Regions from separate parts of the Homo sapiens genome. Here region 1 is linked to region 2. Evidence: fine-mapped expression QTL. A gene starts in region 2. The other region holds a variant in brackets. All regions are shown on one strand. Distances are between the middles of the regions. Region 1 has its middle 160 kb from the start of ARID1B. Region 2 holds the start of ARID1B (AT-rich interaction domain 1B).

Region 1 (8,671 bases), 160 kb after region 2:
ACTATGTTGCCCAAACTGGTCTTGAACTCCTGGGCTCAAGCGATCCTTATACAGAACTTATAACTGGCCCAGCCTTGTTCTATGTACTTCACATAAATCAGTTCATTGAATCCTCACAACCTAATGGCATAGATATTACTGGCTTTTTATAGATGGAAAAACTGAAGATCAGACTGGCTAATGTCTTGTCCAAAGTCACACACAACCAGTAAGTGGCAAAGCTGGGACGGAAACCCAGTCCGGCTCCAGGTCTGTGCGTTGATTCACTCCTGCCATGGGCAAGGAGGGCATAGATGCTAAACTCTGAAAGCTCAACCAAAGTCAAGATTCACTGAAAATTTGCTGAGTGTCAAGGAGGGTGCTAAGTATTTTACATACATTTGTTACTTTTTCTGTATTTCAAATTTCTCATTTTGCAAAATTTAAGACACACAAAAGTTGCAATAATAGTATAAAATATTCCTGTGTATTCTTCACAGACTTACCAAATGCTAACATTTTACTACACTTCTCTCTCATTCTCTCTTTCTCTCTCCATATGTATATATGTTGTGTGTGTGTTACATACACACACAACATATATATATGAAACATTTGAGAATAAGTTGCAGACATGATGCTCCTTTACCTCTAAATACTTCAGTGTGTATTTCCTAAAACAAGGTCATTTTTTTCCATGACCAGTACAATAACCCAAATCAGAAAACTAACATTGATACAAGAGTATTTGCTGTGCTAAAGATCTCAGAGTTTTCCAGTTGCCCCACTAATGTCTCTTTTTGATCCGTGATTGAATCCAAGATCACACCTTGTATCTAGTTGTCATGCATCTTTAGCCTCCTTTAATTTGCAACAGTTCCTTGTTCTTTTTTTGTTTTTTTTTTTTTGAGACAGAGTCTTGCTCTGTTGCCCAGGCTACAGTGCAGCAGCATGATCTTGGCTCACTGCAACTTCCACCTTTTGGGTTCAAGTGATTCTCATGCCTTAGTCTCCCAAGTAGCTGGGACTACAGGTGTGAGCCACCATGACCAGCTAGTTTTTGTATTTTAGTAGAGACGGTGTTTTGCCAAGTTGCCCAGGCCAGTCTCAAACTCCTGGCCTCAAGTGATCCACCTGCCTTGGCCTCCCAAAGTGCTGGGATTACAGGCGTGAGCTGCAGCACCTGGCCTGTTTCTCATTCTTTGTCTTTCATGACTGTATTAGTTTTCTATTGCTGCTGTAACAATTTACCATAAAATTAGTGTCTTTAACAACAAAAGTTTATTACCTTACAGTTGTGTCGGTCAGAAGTCCAAGATGGTATCCCTGGGCTTAAAAAAAAAAGGTGTGGGGAGGGCAGAATTCCCTTCTGGAGGCTCTAGGGGGTGGGGAATCTGTTTCCTTGCCTTTTCCAGCTTCTAGATGTCACCTGCATTCCTTGACGTGTGGCCCATTTCTCCATCTGCAGAGCTATCAATGGCTAGTTGAGTTCCTCTCATGTTGTTACGTCTGTCTGACCTCTGACCACCGCTGGGAAAGCCCCTTTAAGGCCTCATGTGATTAGATTGGGTCTGCCTAGCTCATCCAGGGTAATCAGTACATCTATAAGAATGCTTTTGCCATGCATGCTAACTTCTCCACAAGTTCCAGGTACTATTGGGGTCATTATTCTCTCTGCTGCTGTAACTTTGACATTTTTGAAGAAGACAGGCGAGTTATGTTGTGCACTCTTTCTTGATCTGAGTTTATCTTGTGTTTCCACATGCTTCGATTCAGGGATGCTGTTATGGTTTGGCTGTGTCCCCACCCAAAGCTCCTCTTGAATTGTAGCTCCCCCACTGTCCACATGTTGTGGGAGGGACCCAGTGGGAGGTAATTGAATCATGGGGGTGGGTCTTTCCTGTGCTGTTCTCATGATAGTGAATAAGTCTTATGAGATCTGATGATTCTATAAGGTGGAGTTTCACTGCACAAGTTCTCTTCCCTTGTCTGCCACCATGTGAGATGTACCTTTCACCTTTTGCCGTGATTGTGAGGCCTCCCCAGCCATGTGGAACTGTGAGTACATTAAACCTCTTTCTTTTGTAAATTGCCCAGTCTTGGCTATGTCTTTATCAGCAGTGTGAAAATGGACTAATCCAGATGCAATGTTGGCAGGTGGTTCTGCTGCTGTGTTCTCAATCCTGTGTGTCAGGAGGAGTGTGCTACGCCTCTGTCCATTAGTGTGGGTGTCATTAATTTTGATCCCTTGACTAGGGTGATGTCTGGCCATTTCCTTCTCTGTAACGTTAGTATTTTTCACTTTGTAATTAATTGGTATCTCTTGAAGAGATTCTTTGAGGCTATGTAAATATCTGCTTCCCAGCCTACTTTCTATCCTACCTTCACCCACTAGTTTTAGCATTTGTTGATGATTCTTTGCTTGAAACAATTATTACTGTGGTGGTTGCCAGATGCCTACATTTTCTCATTTAATCTACAACCACGAGATGGGTAGTGTTACTGTCCTAATATCACAGATGGGGAAATAGGCTTACGTAAATTAAATAAGTTTTCCAAGGTCTTACGGTTAAGTACGGTGGAACCACAATGTGGAAGTTTCAAGGCACATTTCACTGACCTTCCTGGCCAGAAAGGTGGTTGGTAAGATGCGTTGTAGCTGTTCTCAGAAAAAATAAATTAGAAAGTACAGTGGACTTTATTCAATGTAATTCTGCATCAAGTTGAATCCATCTATCTTTTTGGAAAAACAACTTTCATGATGACAAATTCTCGGAATAGAACAGTGGAAATGAAGCCATGGTCAAAACTGTCAACTCTGAGGAGGTTCTTTCTCAAGGAGAGGCAAGTGGCACTTCAGCTGAGCCCCCGTTTGGGCGTCGTTCCATCATTGACCTCAGGGTGCGCAGGCAGGGCTGGCTTATAAGGGAGCTATGCTAGAAAACAGCTTGTCTGCTGCTTTTGGTAACAGAACCCCCCTGGAAGGGCTCCAGCATGGGCTTGTGTGAGATCAGATTTCACACTCCAGTGAGTGAACTCCTCAAAGTCCCAGTTAATTTGTATTAAGCACCCAGCTTTCTTTTCCCACTGAACTCCCTTGAGCCCTCTCAACCAATCAAAGAGACGTGGCATGCAAACAAGCCACTTGGAGGGGTTTCTATGACCAATAATCTAAGGCCCAAGCAAACTGGGTTCTGGCCAGCTCTGTACAGAGGCACTCCAAAGCTTATCGGTGGCGAAGCTACGAGAGGAACCGAGACTGTCATCGCTGGGGTCCCTGCAGGACTGCGCTGAGTGCCCTCCAGACCCTTTTAAGGAAAATAAATTTTACCTCTGCTTCTTCTGGTTCTGTTCTCCAGACTGAGCTTAATGAGTAACTCATCGCCACAAAATGGGGTAATTAGAAGCAGGTGATCTGGGATAGTGCCTGGGCTGTGGGTTTTTTGTTTCTCACTTGAGACTGGAAATTAGGAGCCCGGGATTCTTTCCCCACGAATTCTGTGCCACCAGAAAATAATATTTTATTTCCTAGCATCTGAAACGTAGTCGTGCATTAGGACTAATATGTTTGTGATGCTCTCTGAGCAGCCCAGAGCAAGGGGCTACTGTACAAACCCAGCAGCACTCTGTCTGCAGAACAGATGGCTATGGTAGTAAAAATGTAACAAGCTGAAGACACCCTGACTTTGTCGTATTAGATCATGTGTGCTGGTAAATCCTAGGTCTCTATACTACACACTTTAAGAGAAAATTGACTAAATGGCTTCTGAACTTTGTTAAAATAAACACAACAAAATACAAAGGTGCTTGATCTAGCTGCCTTTCTACAAGTGGCTTCCTAACATGAAGTAGCTATTCCTAGAGTCACAAAAAACCGAAGGCTCACACATAGAGAGTCGTACAAGCAAGAGAGGAGTGACATTTCAAGGGGGCGTTCAAGAATAGTTGGAGTGCCTTGGACTCTAGTGAATTTAAAGTTCCCCAGAAGACTTGATCCTTACATTTTCTAGGGAAGGTGATGGCATTGCTTTTCTTTGCAATGTATTCTATGACAGTGTGAATTCTTTGTGGGCAGGCCTTCTACCTTTGTATCATCCTTGCCTGGTTTAGTCCCTGACACACGGTAAGTGTTTAATAAACGCTAGTTGAATGAATATCAAAGTGATTACAATTCCTCCACTAAGTCTGTTCTTCTCATTTATCAACCTTAATATCTTTTCTTGCAAATGGCATACTTACTTCTTTCTTTGAAATTGAGTAGAACGATTCACGTTACTCAATGTAGAGGGTAGGTCTATTACAGCTTCTCTGCCCACAGCTTTTCCTGCTGTAAACGGCCGTGCACCATTAGAATCCGCCACTCCTCCTGGCCTTGGGTGATAAGGGCGGGTGCGTTCCTGACTCTGCCCTGTCTGGGAACTTAAGTCTTGCATGGCTTGGCTCTTTGCCAGTCATTTGGAATTAGGAAATGAGAGAGA[G/A]TGCTGCCGGAATGCAGGCCATGTAGACTTTGGTCTGCGGGCGCTGTCTGGGGCCCTGGCACACTAATGATGCACCTAGGAAGCTGGTCTACAGGAAGGAGAGTGGGGCAGTGAGCAGCGGAAGATGGATGGAATGTTGTGTGGCCCTGAGAGGCAGAAAAAGGGACTCAGTTCCCAAGGGCATCAGGAATGCTACCTGCACATGGTTTCTTGGATTCTGAGAGATGTTTCTTGTCCTTAAATTCCTCTCCTTTCTGCTTGAGCTTACCTCGGTGAAGAGCATTCTTCCCACATCCCATTATCTTGTTCTAAAGTGTAAACAAATTCTTATCTTAACCTCTTAAAAAAGTCTGTATGAGCTCCTGGCCACTGATTTGAATGGAAGGAGTCTCTTTCCAAAACTTTCAAGTTTCCTTTGTTCCTTTGCTGTAGCCTTTCCTGTATTCTTGTCCTTCACTTCTGAGTGGGTATCCTGAACAGAACACGATGCTGCTTCTTTAAAAAAATTTTTTGTTTGTTTGTTGTTCAGAGACAGGTTCTTGCTCTGTCACCCAGGCTGGAGTGCAGTGGCGTGAAACATGATGCTTCTAATAAAAGTCTGACAAATGCTGTTGAGAGTGAGAAGAGTACCTCAAAATCCTGACGCACTTATGTGTTGTTTATATTACCCACAGCCAGGATTAAAAAAAATTACTGGATTCTCAAATTAGAAAATATACTTTATTTTCAAATACATAAAAACCATTAAAAAATAATTTTCTCTCTCTATCATCTATCATCTAATTATCTAGTATCTATCCATCTATCTGTCATCTATGTATATATGTAATGTATCTATCTATCTATCATCTGTCTATCATCTATCTATCTATCCATCCAACCCCTTGGTAACTATGCTGTTCTCCATCCTTCTGCATCCTTCTATGTGAATCTTCTACATCCTTTCTTTTTTTTTTTTTTTTTGAAATGGAGTCTCCACCTAGGCTGGAGTGCGGTGGTGCAATCTTGGCTCACTGCAACCTCCACCTCCTGGGCTCAGGTGACTCTCCTGCCTCAGCCTTCTGAGTAGCTGGGATTACAGGTGCCTGCCACTATGCCTGGCTGATTTTTGTAGTTTTAGTAGAGATGGGGGTTTCACCACGTTGGCCAGGCTGGTCTAGAACACCTCACCTCAGGTGATCCACCCACCTCGGCCTCCCAAAGTGCTAGGATTATAGGCATGAGCCAACATCCCTGGCCCTTTCTATTTTTTATTCTGCTTAATCTACCAAACATTCAGAGAGACGTGTGCTAGAATCTCCCACCATGTTTTTCAATCAGTCTATTTTTCCTTATAATTCTAACAATTTAATATATTCTGAGGTTGTTTTATTAAATTAATAAAAGTTTAAGATGGGAAGATTTTCCCCATGAGCTTTCCCTTTATCACTGTGTAGTGAACATCTTTTCCCTGGTTAAGCTTTTCGTCTTAACATTGTGTTGTGTTGCCTTATATTATGTAACAATACCAGCCTACATTTGGTGTGTATTTATTTGACATGTTTTTTTCTTTTCTTTTTCTTTTTTATTTATTTATTTTGAGATGGACTCTCGCTCTGTCGCCTAGGCTGGAGTGCAGTGATGAAATCTTGGCTCCCTGCAACCTCTGCCCCCCGGGTTCAAGTGATTCTCCTGCCTCAGACTCCCAAGTAGCTGCGATTACAGGTGCCTGGCACCATACCTGGCTAATTTTTGTATTTTTAGTAGAGAGGGGATTTCACCATGTTGGCCAGTCTGGTCTCAAACTCCTGACCTCAAGTGATCCGCCTGCTTTGGCCTCCCAAGGTGCTGGGATTACAGTCATGAGCCGCTGTGCCCGGCCGGCATGTTTTTTCTCTATTTCTTTATTTATAACGTTTCTTTACTAGTATGTTTTAAACATATCTCTTATAGAAACACATAGCCAGATTTCGATTTTTAAAAAGTGATTGAAGAATCTTTCTTCTACCTGGTAGATAGAGATCTATTATGATTACAGATCAATTTTTCCTTTTCACTTATTCTACCTTTTCTTTGCTTTAACTTCCCTATTATCCACTTTATTGGTTAATTTAGTTTTCACTCTTTTTTCCTCCCTGCACTTCAATTTCACTGGAAGCTATGCATACTATTCCTATTTTTTTTTTTTCTGATTATCCTAAAAGTGTAACATGATACTTCATATTCGTGTCAAGGTAAGTGTTATTTACATACTTCCTGACTAATAACTTAATACTTGACTAACATCTTAGAATATTTTAATTTCAACCACTCTTCCCATTTGATATGGTTTGGTTCTGTGTCCGCACCCAAATCTCATCTCAAATTGTAATTCCCAGGTGTCAAGGGAGGGACTAGGTGGATCATGGGGATGGTTTCCCCCATGCTATTCTCATGATAGTTAATTCTCATGAGAGCTGATGGTTTTGGCAGTTTCCCCTGCACTCTCTCTCTCCTGCTACCATGTTAGACCTGCCTTGCTTCTCCTTCACCTTCTGCCATGATTGTAAGTTTTCTGAGGCCTCCCCAGTCATGTGGAAATGTGAGTTGATTAAACCTCTTTTGTTTATAAATTACCCAGTTTCACTTAGTATCCTTATAGCAGTGTGAGAATGGGCTAATACAGAAGATTGGTACCAGCAGAGTGGGATACGCCTGTAAAGATAACCTGGAAATGTTTAGCAATTTTGGAACTGGGTAACAGGCAGAAGTTGGAATAGTTTGGAGGACTCAGAAGAAGACAGGAAGATGTGGGAAAGTTTGGAACTTCCTAGAGACTTGTTGAATGGTTTTGACCAAAATGCTGATAGTGATATGGACAATGAAGTCCAGACTGAAGTAGTCTCAAATGAAGATGAAGAACTTATTGAGAAATGGATTAAAGGTCACTCATGCTATATGCTTTAGCAAAGAGACTGGCGGCATTTTGCCTCTGCCCTAGAAATCTGTGGAACTTTGAACTTGAGAGAGATTATTTAGGGTATCTGGCAGAAGAAATTTCTAAGTGACAAAACATCCAAAAGATAACCTGGCTTATTCTGAAAATGTTCAGTTATAATATATAAATGTTCAGCATTGACAAAGACTTGGTTTGAAATTGGAACTTATGTTTAAAAGGGAAGCAGAGCATAAAGGTTTGGAAAATTTTTAGCCTGACCATGTAGAAGAAAAGAAAATTCCATTTTCTGGGGAGGAATTCAAACTAGCTGCAGAAATTTTCATAACTAATGAGGAGTTGAATGGTAATAGCCGTGACATTGGGGAAAATGTCTTCAGGGCATGTCAGAGAACTTCAGGGCAGCCCCTCCCATCATAGGCCTGGAGGCCTAGGAGGGAAAAATGGCTTCCTGGGCCCAGCTCAGGGCCCCACTGCTCTGTGCAGCTTTGGGACTTGGTACCCTGTGTCCCAGCCACTCCAGCTCCAGCCCAAGCTAAAGGGGCCAAGGCACATCTCAGGTTATTTCTTCAGAGGGTGCAAGCCCCAAGCCTTGGTGGCTTCCATGTGGTGTTGGGCCTGTGGGTGTACAGAAGACAAGAGTTGAGGTTTGGGAACCTCTGCCTAGATTTCAGAAGATGTATGGATTCTCTTGGATGTCCAGGCAGAAGTCTGCTGCAGGGCCAGAGCCCTCATGGAGAACCTCTCCTAGGGCAGTGTGAAAGGGAAATGTGGGGTTGGAGTCCTCACACAGAGTCCACATATGGGCACCACCTAGTGGAGCTGTGAGAAGAGGGTCACAGTTTGCCAGACCCCAGAAAAGTAGATCCACCAATAGCTTGCAACTTGCTCCTAGAAAAGCCACAGGCACTCAATGCCAGCCCCTGAAAGCAGCTGCAGGGGCTGTACCCTACACAGCTATAGGGGTGGGGCTGCCCAAGGCTGTGGAGCCCACCACTGCACTGGTGTGCCCTGGATGTGAGACATGGAGTCAAAGGAGGTTTTGGAGCTTTAAGATTTAAAGACTGCCTGGCTGGGTTTTGGACTTGCATGGTGCCTGTGATCCCTTTTTTTTTTGGCCAATTTCTCCCAGTTGGAATGGGAACATGTACCAATACCTGTACCCCCATTATATCTTGGAAGTAACAGTGATTTTACAGGCTCATAGGTGGAAGGGACTTGCCTTGTCTCAGATGAAACTTTGGACTTTGACTTTTGGGTTAATACTGAATTAAGACTTTGAGAGACTGTTGGGAAGGCA
Region 2 (8,671 bases):
GGGTCATAGGGACATAATGGATTCATTCTCATTACAAGAAAACAAAATACTGAAAATGATTGGTACCATTAAGAAAAAAATACTCTAAAGTAACATGGTCCTACATCTGCCTCTAACTTCATTCGTCTCTAGTTTACGAAGATGTGAATTTTAAACTGCTCCTTTAAAAGCAGGCTGACAAAGCAAACCTTTTTAAAATTAATTACGTGGGTTTATTTCCATGATTCTTCTCTATAATGTTTTTCCTCGTGTGAATCAAAAACAAGTTGAAATCACAAGTTTTCTATTAAGAATAGAAAAATCTATTATCCTTAAAAGCAAAACTCCAATAACTAAAGATCTGAAAGCAGTGGACAGCAGTGTTCAGCCTAGGATTCACAAGATTATTTGTTAAATTCAGCCCTTCCTTCACTCTGACAAGTCTCTAAGGTATGATTATTGTTAAAATACCTCTTCCTAAAATAAATGAGTTACATAAAAATATACATACAACGACTGTTGTTCCTCTCTAACAGATTAGGATTTTTTAAACTTTCATAGCATTAACATGAAAGAAAAATTATTTGGAAAAAAAGACACCCAGCACAACTTGCTTAGAATATAGTTTCCCTAATTCATCGTGTAAGCAGTTCAAACAAGGCTCAAATTACCTAATCTAACAAAACAATGAAGAAAAAAAAAAGATTATGGGGCATTTCTGTATTCTCCACATCAAAAGCAAATATGAAATGATTCTTAGTATTTCACAGGAATATCTCATTTTTCCCCTTTTAATTATTGTTATCTGCACAAATATGTGGTTTCCTCATTTCGTTTTTTAAATATGTCAATTCTAACCAAAACTCCTCATCCACAAATATCTTTGAACAGTCAGAACTGATAAATCACAAAAAAATGAAGCTTAAATCTTGTTTATCAGGTGAATTACACATCACCAAAATATATTGCTGCCTATCAAAATCTTAAAAAAATTTTAAGGTTTTATTAAGCTGCGTGTGCTGACAGAATTCAAATTTTTCCATAGTTGAATTTGTAAAGGGAAGACTTTTATAAAGGCTTTACAAATCCAAAAATTGGTAAAATTCGTGGTTTACTTATTTTTCAATGGCCTTATCCTCAGCCTCCAATTAAAGTCTATGATATATGTAATGTGCATATTCTAAGACTATCATCAAAGATCTGAATTTTGTAAATGCCCAATACTGGACACCAGCGAACTGTTTTTCTGTATTTGATCCTCTTATTAATAACTATGATTCATAATAGTTTCAGCTTTAAATACTGAACCTTACATTTGCTTGTAATAGAGCTCAGTTATTATTTGTGGCAAGAATTTTTGTGACTGTACTGCTCAGCACTTCTATTTACATCAGCAGTGCTAAATGCCCAATGGTGAGAGGGGAGCCAATCAGATGGCAGATTAGATGTCAACTCAGAGGCAGCTGTCTGGAGACTATTACAGCCAGTTTACCTCCACAATTCAAATTCCAAACCTTGCAAAGGAGATCAAGTCAGTCTTTAGGCTCAGCCTACTAGCAAGAAACAGCAAGAGTGCAGGACACTTCCTAACAGCGCTGTAGGACTCGGGTGACAGCAAAATAAAGAAAATCCAAATAAATACGATCCCAAAAGATCAATTTTCACTGGTCTGCTATCTTACTGGATTTGCTGAATAAAATGCATGCCTAATCCATGATCAAAATAAGTTCAATTGATCCGGAACGTGCTCCTTTCACATAGCCTGCCTGTTGAAGGTGACTCCCTGCAAGCAGCCCGTAAGCCCAATAATGGATTTCCCTGGCTATTCTAAGGAACGAATCGATGTATTTTACAATATTGCACCTCCATGTCGTTGTAAATTTTGTTATTATTCCTACCAGCAAACGTTCGAGCTCGAAGCCCGCACCGAGTGTCTCTGAATGGCTCTCCCTAAGTAGGAAAAACCCACTCGCTTGTCACAAAGCTAACCTATTTTCCCTGCCTGGACCTCGGAAGCCAAGAGGGAACGTGCTGTGGCTAAAGGTGTGAGAAAGTTCCTCATTCTTTCCCCCGTTAAAGCACATTGTGGGCGCTCCCAGAACCGATCGGGTGGCTCTTCGCCCCAGCCGTCCTGGCCGGGAGAGCCTATTTGTTACAAAAGCACCCGAACGGTCCCCGCCGCCCCAAACGGCGACCGCGCGGGTGGCGCCTCGGGATCTCGCTTCGCGTTCCCGGGCCTGGGGGAGGGGGGGGACGCGGGTGCGGGCCGGCGGGGTAGAAGCCACCCGGCCCGGCCCGGCCCGGCGAAGCCCTCCCAGGCCTGGACAGCGCGCCGGCCCCCGGGGCGCCCCGACCGCGGCGGGAGGCGGCCGCCCGTCAAGATGGCTTTGGGCGCCGCGCCCCCGCCGCCCCCGCGGGAAGACGGGGAAAAGTACGCGGCAAAGAAAGAAACTCAGGCTCGCGGCGCGGCGAGGCCGCCGGGCGGAAGCAGGCCCGGCTGGCGCGAGGGTTACCTGGGATCTGCCCATGGTCGGTCCGGGGGTGCCGGGGCTCATCGCCGGGTGACTCCTTTGTTGCGCGGCCGCCCAGGCCGGGCTGGCAGCGGCGTACTGGGCGCCCATGTCCTTGCCCAAGCCCATGCCCGCGGCCGCCTGCTGGCCGCCCGCCGCCGCCCCCGCCGCCGCCGCCTGGGACTGGGGCTGCGACGGCGGCGGCGGCGGCGCGCTGGGGCTGCTGTACTCGGGGTAGCTGCCGCCGTAGCTCCGCATCATGGGGCTGGGCGAGGTGAGCAGCTGATTGAGGGTCGGGGTGGCCCCCGACGGGTGCTGGTTCTGGCCGGCGAAGCGCTGGAAGCCCCCCGCCGCCGAGCCGGCGGCCGCCTTGCTGAGGCTCGCGGCCCCGCCGCCCCCGGGGCCCATCATCATGCCGCCGCCCTGCTGCCGGGGGGAGCTCAGCACCCCGTACCCCGCGGACGAGCCCCCATAGCCGCCGCCGCCGCCGCCTCCTGCTGCTGCCGCCGCCGCCGCGGCCGCCGCCGCCACAGCTCCCGCTCCTGCTCCTCCTGCTCCTGCTCCTCCTCCTCCTCCTCCTCCTCCGCTGCCTCCTCCTCCTCCGCCGCCGCCGCCGCCGCCGCCGCCCGCGCCGGGCCGGCTGTAGCCCGGATAATGGTTGCACTGGCTGTTGGGGTACCCTTCGTGGGAGTTCTGCAGGGGGTCCATGCTGCCGGGGGCCCCGGCGGCGGCGGCGGAGGCGGAGTGCATCATCCCCATCCCGGGGCTTTGTTGTCCGCCATGTTGATCAAAGCAAGGCCCAGCGCGGCCGCCGGGGCCGCCGCTCGCAGGGGCAGCGCTGCCATAGTAATTATTAAACTCCGGGACGGCCGCCGGGCCGCCGCCGCCCCCGGGCACGGCGACCGGCGGCTGCTGCGTGCCCAGGGCGCCCAAGCCCGGGTGCTCGTAGCGGCCGCCCGCCGGCTCCCCCATCTTGGGCGGCGCGTCGTCCTCGTCGCCCGGCTTGCTCAGCAGCGGCGGGCCCGGGGGGTCGGCCTGGCCGCCCGCAGCACTGTCCTTGGCGCCTCCATGTTGCGGCTGCTCCATGTCGGGGCCGGGCTGAGGCGCGCCGCCGCCCGCGCCGCCCAAGCTGTTGTTGTTGGAAATGGGATGTTGCTGTTGCTGCTGCTGCTGCTGCTGCTGTTGCTGCTGCTGCTGCTGCTGCTGGAACTGGTTTAGCTGCTGCTGTAGTGCGTGGTGGTGGTGGAGGTGGTGGGCATGGTGGTGGTGGTGGTGGGCATGGTGGTGGTGGTGGTGCTGCTGGTGGGGCGGCGCGGCGGGGGCTTCGCCAACGGTTTTCAGTTTGTGGTTGGGGAGCAGCCCCGTCTCCATGGCCGAGCCCGGGCCCGACGAGGAGGAAGAGGATGCCGCCGCTGCCGCCGCGGAGGAGGAGGAGGAGGAGGACAGCGCGGCGGCGCTTCCACCCTCCTTGAGAGCCGCCTCGGAGCCGCCGCTCTTGGCGCTGTGGGTGCCGGCGGCGGCCGCGGCGCCCGCGTTATGGGCCATGTTGAGTTCGTGACGGGGGAGCAGGGGGTGGTGGTGCACACTGTTCAGGCCGCCGCCGCCGTCGCCGCCGCCCCCCAGCATGGGTCCCGGTGCCGCCGCCGCCGCCGCCGCGCCGCGCGCCCCCGCCTCCAGGTCCCGGGCTCCGGGCGCCGGCCGCGGCCCGGGGGGCGCCCGCCGTTCGCCGCTGCCTGCCCGCGCCCGCGCCCGCGCCGCCGCCGCCGCCGCCGCCGCTGCTGCCCGCGCGGCCATGATCGCCGCGGCGTGGCGAGGCCGGGCGGGGGGCGGGGGGAGACAATAACCCCCACTTTTCAGGCCGCGGCCCCTCCTGTGCGCATCCACGCGGCCCGCCGGGAAGCCGCGACCCCCTCCCCCTCCGCAGGCCCCGCCGGAGCGCCGGGCCGGGCACGCCTTACGCTCTGGGCCTGCTCCTGCTGTGTGCTTTCATGGTGAAAGTTTTTAGTTCAGGTTTAAATGAAACTTTTCTCTTTTCCTCTCTAGCCCGGATATGGGTAAATACACGACTAGCTGAGCCTATCGGGCCCAGCATGGCTTGAGAGGCAGCGGGCGAGCTCGAGCAACTATTATCCACTTCGCTCGCATTACTCCCGCGCACTCGCAAAACGCGGACTGGACTCGTCCCCGGGCCGCCGCCGCCCGCCCCGGCGCAGCCTCGCGGGACCCAGCCGGGCTTGGGCTAAGGCTGGGGCCGGGGCCGGGGCCGGGGCGGCTCGGCGGCCGCTCGGAGCGCGGCGGCGTGGGGCGGCCGGAACCTGCACTTTCCCCCCGGGCCGCTGTCTCCTTGCCAACCGGGCGTTCGCATGTTTGTTTTCACGTCTAAAAGGAACGATACAAAGGTGGAAAACGAGTCTGACGAGCAGACAAAAGAGGGAGAAGGGCTGGGAAACAAAGTTGTCTATTGGCCTCAGAGGTTACAAGGAGCCGACGGAGAAAGAAAATATTTAGGCAATCTGCAAAAGCACGGTCTCTCCCAGGAGTTATGTAATTTTCAGAACGTTCGCCTCTGCCTTGATTTCGGGCCATCGGCGTAATTCCCACAACTTCTTCCAACTGCAAAATTAGGAAAGATTTGAAATGAAGGTTAGCCCCGGTCAGAGAGCCCTATGGCCTGTACCCAGTAGGTACTCAATAAATGCTTATGACTGACTGCACCCGCCCCAAAGAGAATGTTTACATAACTCTTTTTGAAGGCACCTTAAACACGTATGTAGGTTTGTCAGTGTATTTCCAAAGGAATATGTCCACGTATTCCCAAAGGAGCATTTTTCTTACATGCACTTGGATGTCCTCTGTGGAGTATGTACAGTGGTGTTTTCTGCGCCAACTTTCACATGAACATTTAACTCTTGGTGCCAGAACAGCGACAGCTATGGGTTAGCTCGTATCTTCATAAATCTATATGACACCTTTCATCATGTTTCAGAGCTTCGTGTGCACAGTTAACCCTCTCGATATACATTCATTTCAAAGAGATGTGGAACGAAACTAAAATATTATAGACATTATATTTAATAAATATAACTTCAATAATAATATAAAACAGTCAACTCTAGTCCTAATGTAGAAATGTTCCATACTTTGTTCTCTTAAAAATTGGTGTCTATTAACATTTTATAATGTTTTTAATATTTGCATTGTTATTAATGTTTTCAATATGTGCATTGTCCCCTAGTAACATTTTAAAAAGCAAGACTTCTTAACCTTAGGCAATGACCCACTTGTACTAGTGTGGACTCAGTTTTCATTGAGAGAAAGCATTTAAAACCTGGCAGAAACAATACTTACGGTTTTGGTAGAGTATAGTTTTCCAAAATTATTTCATTCTTCAGCTTTCCATAAAAACTATTTTAGTTCATTTCCACTGCAGCAGTGGTTATTTGTTTGACCAAGTGTAAATATGTTACATGACTAAATAGAAAAGGATTGATGGGAAAACTGGTGACTAATTGGGGTCGGGGGGAGGGAATCAGGTGCACACCCAAGGGTCATTATAGAGTGTAGAAACAACAAATTGCAATTCTACGCAAACAACTGGAAAACGGGATATATCATCGTGTGTTAGAGAGAATAACAGAACCATAAGATGAATTCGTGCCAAATCATTCATCAGTTTTTGCCAAGAGAATACTACATCTTTGTTAGTGTGCCTTTTTGACATTTTTTCCTGGATTTTCTCCCTTTATATATTCAAATACATACTAATTATACGCATTACACCACAGAAGTTGAATTTTTAGTTTTTCATATGCAAATATAAATATATGTCTGTTTTGTGTGTATATACATATATTCTAAAATCAATTACATATTTATGCTTTTAGACATAGTCAAACTAAGTATGTACACATCATCCTAAAAGTGCATTTTTTCAAATTGATAAAATATATCAAAGTCAGTTCATACAAGTGTAGCCATATGTTGTGGCTTATTTTCACAACTAATCCTAAAAGGGAAAATGAGTCACCAAGTTCAGCTATGGCCCTTTTCCTTAAAATATTTTTTCATATTGGCAAATCGTGAAACTAAAAAAAAATTAGTAGAGAAGTCAAAATCTCTTTTAATTCCATTTGCTTCAGCAAGTCAACTAGAAGATTGGAACTAAGAGACTATAAAATAGAGGCCCCCAGCACAATGAAATCAGTCTGCTATAAAAGGCGACACATGCCAGTTTTTCCTCCCCAATGGCAGATGCCACACCCTAAAGCAGACAGAAGGCACTGCAGCCTGTAGGAGAAGCACAACACAAAGCCGGCAGGACTTGGTTTTGTCTTTTAAACCACGGAGAATGCTAAAATACCTTTCTAAAGCATCTTTGCTGAAGATAAGAAGTGCACTCGAATTTGCTCAACTTTTCATACACACCTCAGGAAAACAAAATAAAAGCCTGTTTAGTTTCATTTAAACATCCAGGGCTTAACAAACAAAACACCAATTGTCAGGGGTCTGTTACAAAGTGATGAAATAGGTTCCCATTACACAAAAGCACAATTTCAACCACAGGTTCAAATTTCCATTGTGTTCCTTGCCTCAACTATCTCATATGGCAATTCTACCTTATTGTTTCTTTTTGATGAAATAAGGTACTAGAAATCACTGCGCTCATTTTTCCTAATGAATTCCTTAATTTTACACCTCTTGCCTAAATTTCAAACCACAATGACAACTTTAATAAGTTACCCTAACCACAAAGAAGCCATGAGGGGAAGGCCCGGAGGCTGCCCGCAGCCACCCTGGGTTCCAGCCGACCTCCCACCCACAGGGTGCTCCCCACGCCCTCATGTTTAGCCAGAGGATTACCCATTATTTTGTTAAACATTCCTTTTTGGTTACAAAAGACTTTTTTTTTTACTGTATGGAAATATTAATATTCAAATACTGCGCCTTTTGAATAAGTTTTAGGGCACTGAATAAAAGGCTCTTCAACTTGGCCACTTAAAGGGGATTGAGCCAGATGGTAGTTTAAGAATTCCACAGTTCTGTTCTTTTTGCCTCATCGTAGCCCATCATACTCTGTTTGCTTTCAGATTAGTCCCCTTTTACTGTTCTACTTATTTATTCGATGACTGAAACTATCACGATTCACTGCCCATCATATTTCTAACTATTCTTTATGTAATTTGGAAGCAATTTAGAATAAAGCCCTGTCAAGGTTTTACAAATAAGAACTATTAAAGAATAAAGCTTTGGATACTTGCTTTCCTTTTAGATTTATGAGAAATGCGATGAATAGAGCTAATGGGATTTCCCTACTGATCTTGGTCAGGGACTTAAGAAAGCACGAAACAATTGTCCTTTTCACTTCTCCGATTTAGACGTTAGCAGTGAATAACTGCGTCACTGCAAGATATGGGATGTAGCATTTGATTTGAAACAACTGTGCAAATCAATTAGGTAGGATTTGAAAAAAAAAAAGAAGCCTAGGCAAAAAAAATAGTTCAAATTTGGGAACTATGGCAGACGGTAGCACTAATAAACTTACTAAGAAAATTATTGTGGGGATAATAAACCTGGATGGAGATACACTGCATGTAGTCATTCAACAAATTTACCTAGAGTCTACCTTGTGCCATGCCTTGAAAATGAAAGATAATTACCTTGGTCCTGTCCTTCATAGGGGAGATAAACAATTAACAATCACTCATACCTACTAAGGTCTGCCCCTCAATGTCACATGGGATTTGGCCAGTAAAGAAGCAAGCTCAGACCTTCCCCATCCCGCAGCATTTCCTGCAGCGGAGGCTTGCTGGCTGCCATTAGCGGGCAGCTGACCCTAATCCTCCCGCTGACACAACTCCGACTTGACACCTGGAACCCACCACTGTGGAGTCTGGACTTCCAGAACCTTAAGTTTAACATCAGGCTACTACAGTTTCTCTCCAAATTCCTTAGAAACATAGTAACACCAGTGAAATACATTAAGAAACACCTTACTACATTTTAATACATTGTACTTTTTATTTTATCCTGGACTGTCCGCTTTTGAATGACTTTATCACAGCCTCATTTATAAATTTCTTGTAACTTTTAGACAAATGTGTGTTCAATGGCTGCTTTTATTTCCAGTACTGTCCTCAATCATTTTGCCATTAGTGAAAATCACTTACTGAGCACCTACCAGT

What was found.
Region 1: its variant is fine-mapped to the expression of ARID1B in whole blood (TOPMed, PIP above 0.99).

Annotation. Positions count from the first base shown.
Region 1 is chr6:156,613,352-156,622,022 of GRCh38, reverse strand. No RefSeq gene overlaps it. Among named protein-coding and RNA genes, the nearest start is that of ARID1B, 160 kb to the left of the region's middle. The variant G/A (reference allele first, on the strand shown) is at 4,458.
Region 2 is chr6:156,773,293-156,781,963 of GRCh38, reverse strand. ARID1B (AT-rich interaction domain 1B) reads right to left here and starts at 4,586. Exons shown (of 20, transcript NM_001374828.1): 1 at 2,493-4,586. The coding sequence starts at 4,283. MIR4466 (microRNA 4466) reads left to right here and starts at 2,233; the gene lies at 2,233-2,286. It overlaps LOC115308161 (a long non-coding RNA gene), which reads left to right and starts at 3,446. Exons shown (of 2, transcript NR_163974.1): 1 at 3,446-3,718; 2 at 4,533-5,604. RefSeq lists silencers at 2,103-2,272, 2,303-2,992, 3,063-3,112, 3,333-3,562, 3,813-3,882 and 4 more and an enhancer at 2,834-3,369.